Linked DNA regions of Homo sapiens: region 1 is linked to region 2. The links come from fine-mapping of genetic effects on gene expression. A gene starts in region 2. The other region holds a variant in brackets. All regions are shown on one strand. Distances are between the middles of the regions.

Evidence for each region. PIP is the estimated chance that this variant, and not a neighbour inherited with it, causes the effect.
Region 1: its variant is the best candidate, but not a certain one, in a credible set for the expression of EFCAB14 in whole blood (TOPMed, PIP 0.80).

Annotation. Positions count from the first base shown.
Region 1 is chr1:46,595,317-46,599,706 of GRCh38, forward strand. The region is part of intron 1 of MKNK1 (MAPK interacting serine/threonine kinase 1); the gene reads right to left. Among named protein-coding and RNA genes, the nearest start is that of MKNK1, 6.8 kb to the right of the region's middle. The variant G/A (reference allele first, on the strand shown) is at 1,912.
Region 2 is chr1:46,717,192-46,721,581 of GRCh38, forward strand. EFCAB14 (EF-hand calcium binding domain 14) reads right to left here and starts at 1,923. Exons shown (of 11, transcript NM_014774.3): 1 at 712-1,923. The coding sequence starts at 896. RefSeq lists silencers at 1,728-1,777, 2,098-2,147.

The DNA of each region.
Region 1 (4,390 bases), 120 kb before region 2:
GAGCCAAAATTTCTAAAAAGGCTTTCTAACTGGAAGTTGGGTGTGTTTCACCATGACCTCAAACCACATGCCCCAAGTGGGACTTGTGCCCAACCCCCACCCACTGCCTCCTTCCTCTGACTTCTCTTCTTCCCTATCAGATCACGTCATCCTGCCAGTTATTCCTCAAAGGCAAGCACTTACCTTTTTCATCTTTGCATTACCAGCATCTAACATAGTATCTGGCAAAAATGGGCTCTAGTGAATCTGAATGAATTACTTAATACACGAAATATCTCTTTAACATCCAATAAAGATGTTAGCACATTGGACAGTCCTTCCTACTATGCTCTTTATTCCCAAACAAATCTGAAACCCAGTAAAACTGTTTCCAGGGCCTAAGGAAACTCAGGGTATGCTCTCTTTCTTCACTTCTACTACCACACTTCCAGGGACAGCCTTGAACACCATCCAACGACAGGATCTGGCTCCATTAGCCAGGCTGGAGTGCAGTGGCATGATCTTGGCTCACTGCAGCCTCCACCTGCCAGGCTCAAGTGATCCTCCCACCTCAGCCTCCCAAGTAGCTGAAACTACAGGCACGAGCCACCACGCCTAATTTTTGTATTTTTTGTAGACACAGGGTCTCACCATGTTGCCCAGGCTGGTATTGAGCTCCTGAGCTCACGTGATTTGCCTGTCTCAGCCTCCCAAAGTGCTGGGATTATGGGCGTGAGCCACCACGCCTGGCCTTGAGCTTCCATTCTGTCTTTAGTCTTGTCATAGGTTTAGACCCCCACCTGGTCCCTTCTTGTTACCTATGGTAGGAGTTGGCAATTTTTTTTCTGTAAAGTGCCAGATGGTAAATATTTTAAGCTTTGTGTGTCACATGATCTTTGTTATGACTCAATTTTGCATTTGTAGAGAGAAAGCAGTAGACAATATGTAAATCAATGATTGTAGCTATATGTCAATAAAACTTTATTTTTGGACACTGAAATTTAAATTTCATAGATTTTCATGTGTCATAAAATATTGATCTTTTCTTGATTTCTCCCCAACCACATAAAAATGTAAAAAGTACATTAGTTTGCATCCACACTAAAACAGGCAGTGAGTCAAATATGGCCTGTGGGCCATACTTTGCCAACCCTTGGCCTACAGTAGAAAAAAAACCCCTCAGAATTCCTTATGGGCTTTGTGTTATTTTGCCACGTGGAGCCACCTTAGGCTGGGGAAGTAGAAAGCACAGGGCTTTTGGGCATTAGGTCCTAGGTTCCAGTTCTGGCCCTACCATCTACCAGCCGGGTAGCCTTGGACATAAAATTCAAACTCTCTGAGCTTTACTACCATCATCTATAAAATGGGGCAATAACACCTAGATCACAGAGTTGTCATGGCAATTAAGTGAGCTAATGTATATAGAGCTCGTGGCACCAGTATCTGGCATACAGTAGGCACTCAATAGTAACTCTTATTCCAGCTTCTGACATGGCTTCTCCAGATCAACTGCAGCTCTGGAAAGCAACCCAGCCAATCTGTGAACCACAGTTGGCCGCAGGAGGGAATAAACTGACAGCAAATACAAAGGCAGAGAGAGAATGTGGAGGTTTTCAGATACATGTCACAGGATTCTAAGTGCCTGGTTAGCCCTAATTCCTTCTGGCACCATTTAAAATTCCTCTGGTCCCTTTTTCCTCCTCAAAAATTACTTCTGACTCTCACAGTTCTTAAAGATTCTTAGCATTCTTTACCAACTACCCAGATGGACCCTGGAGCCCTCTCCTCATTCCTGTACCTCCTGCTGGTATAGGGCTGGGGTGGGGAAGGGTGACCATGGCCAGACCAAACCTACACAGATCCATCGGCCTGCAGCTGGGTCTTAAGTAGGCTGGGCCTGGCGAGGCACCCAATTCTCTCTCAATTGTTCAT[G/A]AATTTCTTGCTGTACTGGGAATTAAATTTCTTCAGTGCTTAAGAACTAGACCTTCTACAGACGTTTTAGAGCAAAAAAAAAAAAAAAAATCACCATGTATACAAACAAAAGATCCATCACATTACTTTCAAGACAGAAAACATCAGTGAGGCACAGGTAAGGCTAAGGTTTATGGCATCTCTACCCTTGGTCCAAAAAGCCAGATCTCGACCTGTTACTTCCTTGCTCTAAAACTTCTAATGGGTGTCCACTGCCTCTGGAGTAACCAAGCTTCTGTGCTGTCACTCACGGCCTCCATCAACTTGTCCCAGACCAACCCTCTATGGGAGTCTTAACCTGCAGTCTCGTCAAAAGGGACTGTATTTCCACCTGATTGCTCTAACCAATTCCCAGCTTCCTACACTTGTGCATAATTAAATTACCTGTAACATTTTATTACGCATCTTCCCCTAGACTGTTAGCCAGGGACAGGGTAGAGACTATGTCTCCTTCATCTCTGGGACCCCTACACCTAGCAGAGGCTCTGGTATGGGGCAACCACTTCATAATTGTTAATGAATGGATGGAAACAGCTGAAGTTATTCTTCCCTTAAGCTGTTTTAGCTGGACTCTTATTAGAAGACCGAGTACAGTCTGGGTCACTGCCACAAAGCAGAAAAACCGAAGAGAAAGAAAAGAGGCATGACCAATGTGATCCAAGCAATGGAAAACAGGTTTTAAGAGTGAGGTTAAAGAGACCAAGGCTGTTTAGCCGGGAGAAGAGAAGATGAGGTTTAACTGGATTCTGGCTTTAAGTACAGAAAAGGTTCTCATGAGAAAATCTTGATCTCATCCTCCCTTTAAAATCAGAAGAAACTTTTCCATATTCATGGAAAATGGAACAAGAAGAAATGGCTTAAGTTAAGGCCTGAAGGGTTTAAGCTGGACAGAAAGAAGAACCAAATTAGGCACCACTTTTCCAGAGATACTGTTATTGTACTTTTGGCAAGTGAATTGGAGGAGTCTTGCTTGGCACTCTTGTTGAAGGCTGTGAAAAAAGTAATATATGTGCTGCTCTGTTCCTGTTTACTGTGGAGAGAGGTGAAAACACAAGTCAGGTAAGATTTTCTAACGAGCCACTGATTTTTATTGACCCATTTCCTACAGGCACTTTCTGCCATGTTATGCATTGCAACCATGTGCTGGAACAATCTAGTATCTCAAAGGTTCCTGACAGGGCAATGGAAAGAAAGAGAAGGTAACAATGCGGGGGAAGGGAAAATGGCCCTAATAAATATACTTTCTATAAAAACAGTACCAAACTGGGCATTCATATATTTATTAATATTATTACTATTAAAGCTCACATTCATTGAGCACCTACTGTGTGCCAGGCACTGTGCTGTTGTATCTCAATTCTCATAACAACCCCATGAGGTAAGTAATATTTGTATTCTCATTTTACAGATGAAGGAACAGAAACTCAGGAAGATTAAATAACTTGCCCAAGTCACACAGGTAGCAAGTGACAGAGCCAGGACTCAAACCCAGATAGCCTGACTCTAGAGTCCACATACCTAACTACTGTCTCTCTGTAAGGATGAGAGGCTGGAATATAAACTCTAGTCTCTCTGAATCCTGTTTATATTCTCAGTTCTTCCTCATACAGTCCCAAGCCAGGACATTAGCAAGAGTTGAGGCCTCAGAAGTGAACCAAAATACTCCTCTGATTATCAGCATCTATAAAATGGGGGCAATTACACCCACATCACAGAGTTGTCATGAGAATTAAGTGAGCTAATGTATATGGAGCTCATGGCATCAGTGCCTGGCATACAGTAGGCACCCAATAACTAGTAACTGTTATTCCCGCTTCTGATATGGCTTCCCCAGATCAGCTGTGGCTCTGGAAAGCAACCCAACGACTCTGTGAACCATAACTGGCTGCAGGAGGGAATAATCTGACAGCAAATACAAAGGAAAGAAACAGACTGAGGACTCTCAGATGATAATGAGCAGGTGCAGGACTTGAATGCCAGCCTCTGCACTCCAAGTTAGTGCTCTGTCCTACTTACAGACTCTTGTTGAATTTGAGGGTGAGAAAATGAAGAGACAGGATGTGCCAAACAGGCTGCCTCCCCCGACAGACCCTTTTGTAACGTCAATCTCCCATCAGAACCCATGCCTGAAATACCAGGGTCCTGCAGCTTCTGTAAACTGGTTCTAAGATTCTACTAGCTAAGGATGGCAATGCACTGATTTATGGCACTGTGGGTGCTGCCAAAATGATCACCTATTAAACCTATCAAGCAGACCTAGTCCATGCAGCTTCCAAACTAGGCCAGTGATTCACCGTTTAAGCCTCTTCACTGATGTCCCCATTCTGGGACCATCTTTGCTCCAGTCTAACCTCCGTCCTGCTGCCAGAGAAAACCGAGCGCCAGTCAGGGCATTTGGAGCCTCTAGCATAAGGAAGATAACATGGGCCTTTGAACTCAG
Region 2 (4,390 bases):
CCACTCAATGTCAGCACCCCGACCTTCTGCCTAGCCATTGTTTCTACATCCTCAGCAGAATCCTCTTTTCTTTTAGTGTGCTCTGAGAGAGTCAAAGGACGTTTTTGAAGTTCCCTTTAGTCCTTTCCCATCCTGAGCCCCAATCCCAATGTCCTCAAATCTTACTACTTGATTTGCCTAGTGGTCTCTCCACCTATGAATGGCTAGGGAAAATGATGCCTCTTCTTTTGCCCCCCGACCCCACCTACTCTCAAGGCTCATACTTCCTACAGTATATCTCTCACCATATTTCCCCACCACCAATATTCAGACTCATCAAGAGTGCAAAAACGAAATAATCTGCAGTCTTAAAGTCTCTGCTTCTCCTTTGTTCTACACTGTTTTAAAAAGTCTAGTCCCCAAAGCTTCTCTGCTCCTCTGTCTCCATTCTTTGCTTCTTTAGGACTCCCTGGGCTCTTGGCACATTCTCCAAGTCCACATTTCCACCTCAGATTTGGAGCTTTTCTTTCTACACCTAAAGACAGATCTCTAACTTATTCTTCATTCAGGATCTGAACTTACCTTCTCCCTAAAACCGTTTTTCCCTCTTTGACTTCCAAGGCCTACACCCTTTTTTCTTCCTAAGGACTTCCTTTCTCCTTCCTGTCAATGTGGCCCCTTGGTAGTGCAAGGAGATGCCTTCTTCCCATTCCACCTTTCACCACTACTCACTTGGCAAAGCGAGAGCGATTTCCAACCACACCGAATTCCTCTTCCTCTTCGGAGCTGGACTCAGAGTCTGAGTCGGGAGGCTCAGTGCGAAGCAGGCGGTGACTGCTTGGGCCTTTCTTGGGCTTCTTTCTCCGGCTGTCCCCAGCCAAACCAATCAATGCATTGAGCTCTTTGCGCTTTTTCATCTTTTTGTGTGGGGTGAGTGGAGCCCCGACTCCTGAGCTGCCAGGTTCGTACCCGATGCCCAATTCTCTTCCTGCCTTGGAGCTGCCTTCCAGGGTTGGGAATCCTGGGCCAGAGCCCCCTGGTCACTCCCACCTAGGGGTGGGACTGACCAGATCCGCCAGGGACTGGAGATTGGAGCCCAGAGGAAACTGGAACTCAGATGGGTGGGGGAAATCACATAGAAATGGCCAAGGAGCTGGTGACCCCAAAGGATAAGGCCTTGGGTGCAGAGTGTTAGTAGAGGGTGGAGAGGGACCTTTATCTCCCAAAGGGCGAAAAAAAAGCCAGGTCAAAAATGAAGGATTCTCAGCCCGGATAAGTAGGCAATACTTCTAAGGGTGCTCCAGGAGGTGAGGAAGGGCACGCTTAAAATACGTGTTTCGGACCTCCGGAGCAAGATTTCCAATGGAGAGGGAAGAGAAACTCGTTCTTGAATGGGAAGAGAGTGGGGAGGTGCAGAGTAAGAAAGTGGGAACGCGTCAGTCCCTTCCTTGCAGGAGAGGTGGCGGCAGGAGGGGGCTCCCAGCAGCTACAATCCCAACACTGCTTGGCCGCAGAGAAAATGCCCTGGCCAGGAAGCCGGCTGGGGTGTGTGATGATCACCGTTCTCCGGCCTCCGTCCTGAACGTGAAGGGGGCCCGAGGCCGAGGAAGATCCGGAGCCCGGCTAGAAGGGTCGGCCTGAGAGAAGCCAGTCCCGCGCCTGATAGACCCCCGCCCCGCTGTCTGGGCCTTGGGGACACGGTGCCGCGGGCGACGGCGGCTCGGCCGACCGAAAGCGCTCCCGCCCGGAGTTTGAGGTCTCCGGCACGGGCAACTCTCGGCCACTCACACGCGCAGGCCCCACTCCAGCCGCGACTCCGGCCCCTGCTCCGGCTTCGGCCGCGGCTGCTCCCGACACGTTGTTGTTGGCGTTGGTGGCGGCGGCTGCGGCGGCGGCGGCCGCGAGCTCCAGCCCCGGGCCATCGCTCCAGCCCCAGATCACTTCCCCTTTGGCAGCGGCCGCCTGCGCCGCCTGCCAGTAAGCCGCACTCCCATTGGTCGCCCGCTGGGGTGACGTCACGCCGGGGCGAAAGTCGTGGCGGAGAGGTGGGGCGTTAAAGGGGCCCTGCCCCGGCTGGGGCTGGGTCCCACCTGCCGATTAGGGTGGCCCCGCCCCCAGGAGGGCTTCCGGGACCTGCTGCGAACCTGAGCCGGGTGGAGTCCTGCATCCTGCGGAGCGCGGGCGGGGCAGGCAAAGCGCCCGGCTGCTCGACCTACTTCGAAAGTTCATCAGCCGCCCACGCCCCCTGGACTAACCAAGTCTGAAGGCTCCGCCTCTCTGACTCTCACACAGGCTGTTAAAAGTTTAGGCGCGTTTCAGATTAATTAACACATTCATTCAGTCAATAAATATTTATTGAGAGCTTACTTACTACGTGTCAGGAGCTGTTCTAGCGCTGGGGATACAGCCATGAACAAAATAACCAGGGTCCTTGTCTTCCTGTATAGTGTTGCCAGATTTAGCAAATAAAAATGTAGGACACCCAGTAAAGTTTGAATTTCAGAGAAACAGCAAACAATTTTTTAGCATTAAGACATCCCATGCAACATCTGGGACATCCTCACACTAAAAAATTATTCATTGTGTATGTGAAATGCAAGTTTAACTGAGCATCGTGTATCTTATCTGCCAATCTATTCCTGCAGTTTATTTATACTCTAGAGGGAGGAGAGCAACAATAGGCAAACATATTAAATGTCAGGAGGTGATAAGTGTTATGATGAAAATTGAAACACGGTCAGGTGATGGGGAGTGCCTCTGTGAAAAGGGAACATTTAGTCAGCTTATCGGAGGAGAGGTGAGGGAATGAGCTGTGCAGTGGCTGCAGGAAGGAGTGACCAGGAAGACCTGTTGTGGCTGGACCAGAAGAGCAAGGAGCAGAGTGATAGGAAATGAGGTCAGAGAAGCATCAGAGGCCAGGGCTTTAGGGCCTTATGGATCACTGAAAGGACTTTGGGAAAGCACTGGGGGCTTTAAGCTGAGAGGTAGCATACTCTGGCTTTTCCGTAAAAAAAAAAAAAAAAAAAAAAATTCACTCTGGGCCAGCGCGATGGCTCACGCCTGTAATCCCAGCATTTTGGGAGGCTGAGGTGGGCGGATCACAAGGTCAGGAGATGGAGACCATCCTGGCCAATATGGTGAAACCTTGTCTCTATTAAAAATACAAAAATTACCTGGGCGTGGTGGTGCGCGCTTGTAATCCCAGCTACTTGGGAGGCTGAGGCAAGAGAATGGCTTGAAACCGGGAGGCGGAGGTTGCAACAAGCCGAGATTGCACCACTGCACTTCAGTCTGGCAACAGAGCGAGACTCCGTCTCAAAAATAAATAAATAAATAAATAAATAAATAAATAAATAAATAAATAAATAAATAAAATAAAATAAAATAAAGGAAAAAATTACTCTGGCTACTTTGTAGAAAAAAGTGGGGGGAGAGTGAGGAACACAGGAGAGCAGTTTGTTACAGTCCAGCTAGAGATGATGCTGATAGATTAGAGAGGCAGTAGCAGAGATGGAGAGCATTCTGGATGTTTCTTGAAGACAGAGCTGACAATTTTTGCTGATAGATTAGATGAAAGGTGTGAAGAGAAGAGAGGGTTTGGCGGTGGAAACACTGGAAGCAAGGAATTGTTATTTATTGAGATGGGGTAGAGCAAGTTTGGGACAAGTTTGACAAGCCAATTCAATATTCAAATGGAGGCTGTTTGGTATACCCATTGAGAGTTCTCTGGGCACAGGTTGGGGCCTGAAATATCAATTGGGAAGTCATCAGATATAAATGGAATTTAAAGCAAAGTGCTTTGAGCTACTTGGAAGAAAGTCACTTAAAGTAATTTTTATGCCCATATTCTTACTGTGGCAATTACGCTGCTTTTGTCCAAGGATTCTCGCAAAGCCTGGGCCTGTATCTGATTTGTTTTTAAGTGTCTAGCCCAGAAGTGTACTCCTAAATAACGATGACCCAATAAATATGTGATGACTACATAAGTGGGCAGTGTTGCAAAGAGGTATGAGTGGACTTTTGGAATCAAAATCAAGAAACCTGGGACTCAATCATGTCTCTACTTCTTCCTGGCTCCATCAGCATGGAAGCCGTTTAGTTTCTCTGAGCTTCAGTTTTCTCCTCTGTAAAATGGGGATAAACACCTATTTCACAGGACAATGAGATGAATGTGAAAGTGTTTTTGAAGCCCCAAGTCATGGTGTATTGTCCCCTTTTGTTTCTAGAGCTTCATTGCCCAATACAGTAGCCAAACTGGCCACATATAACAATTTAAATCTACATTTAACATAATTAAAACAAAATACAAATTTTAAATTGGTTCTTCAGTATCATTGGCCACAGTGTCCAGTAGCCATATGTGGCAAGTGGCTACCAGGCAGCAAGTAATAGTACAATTCCACCACCACAG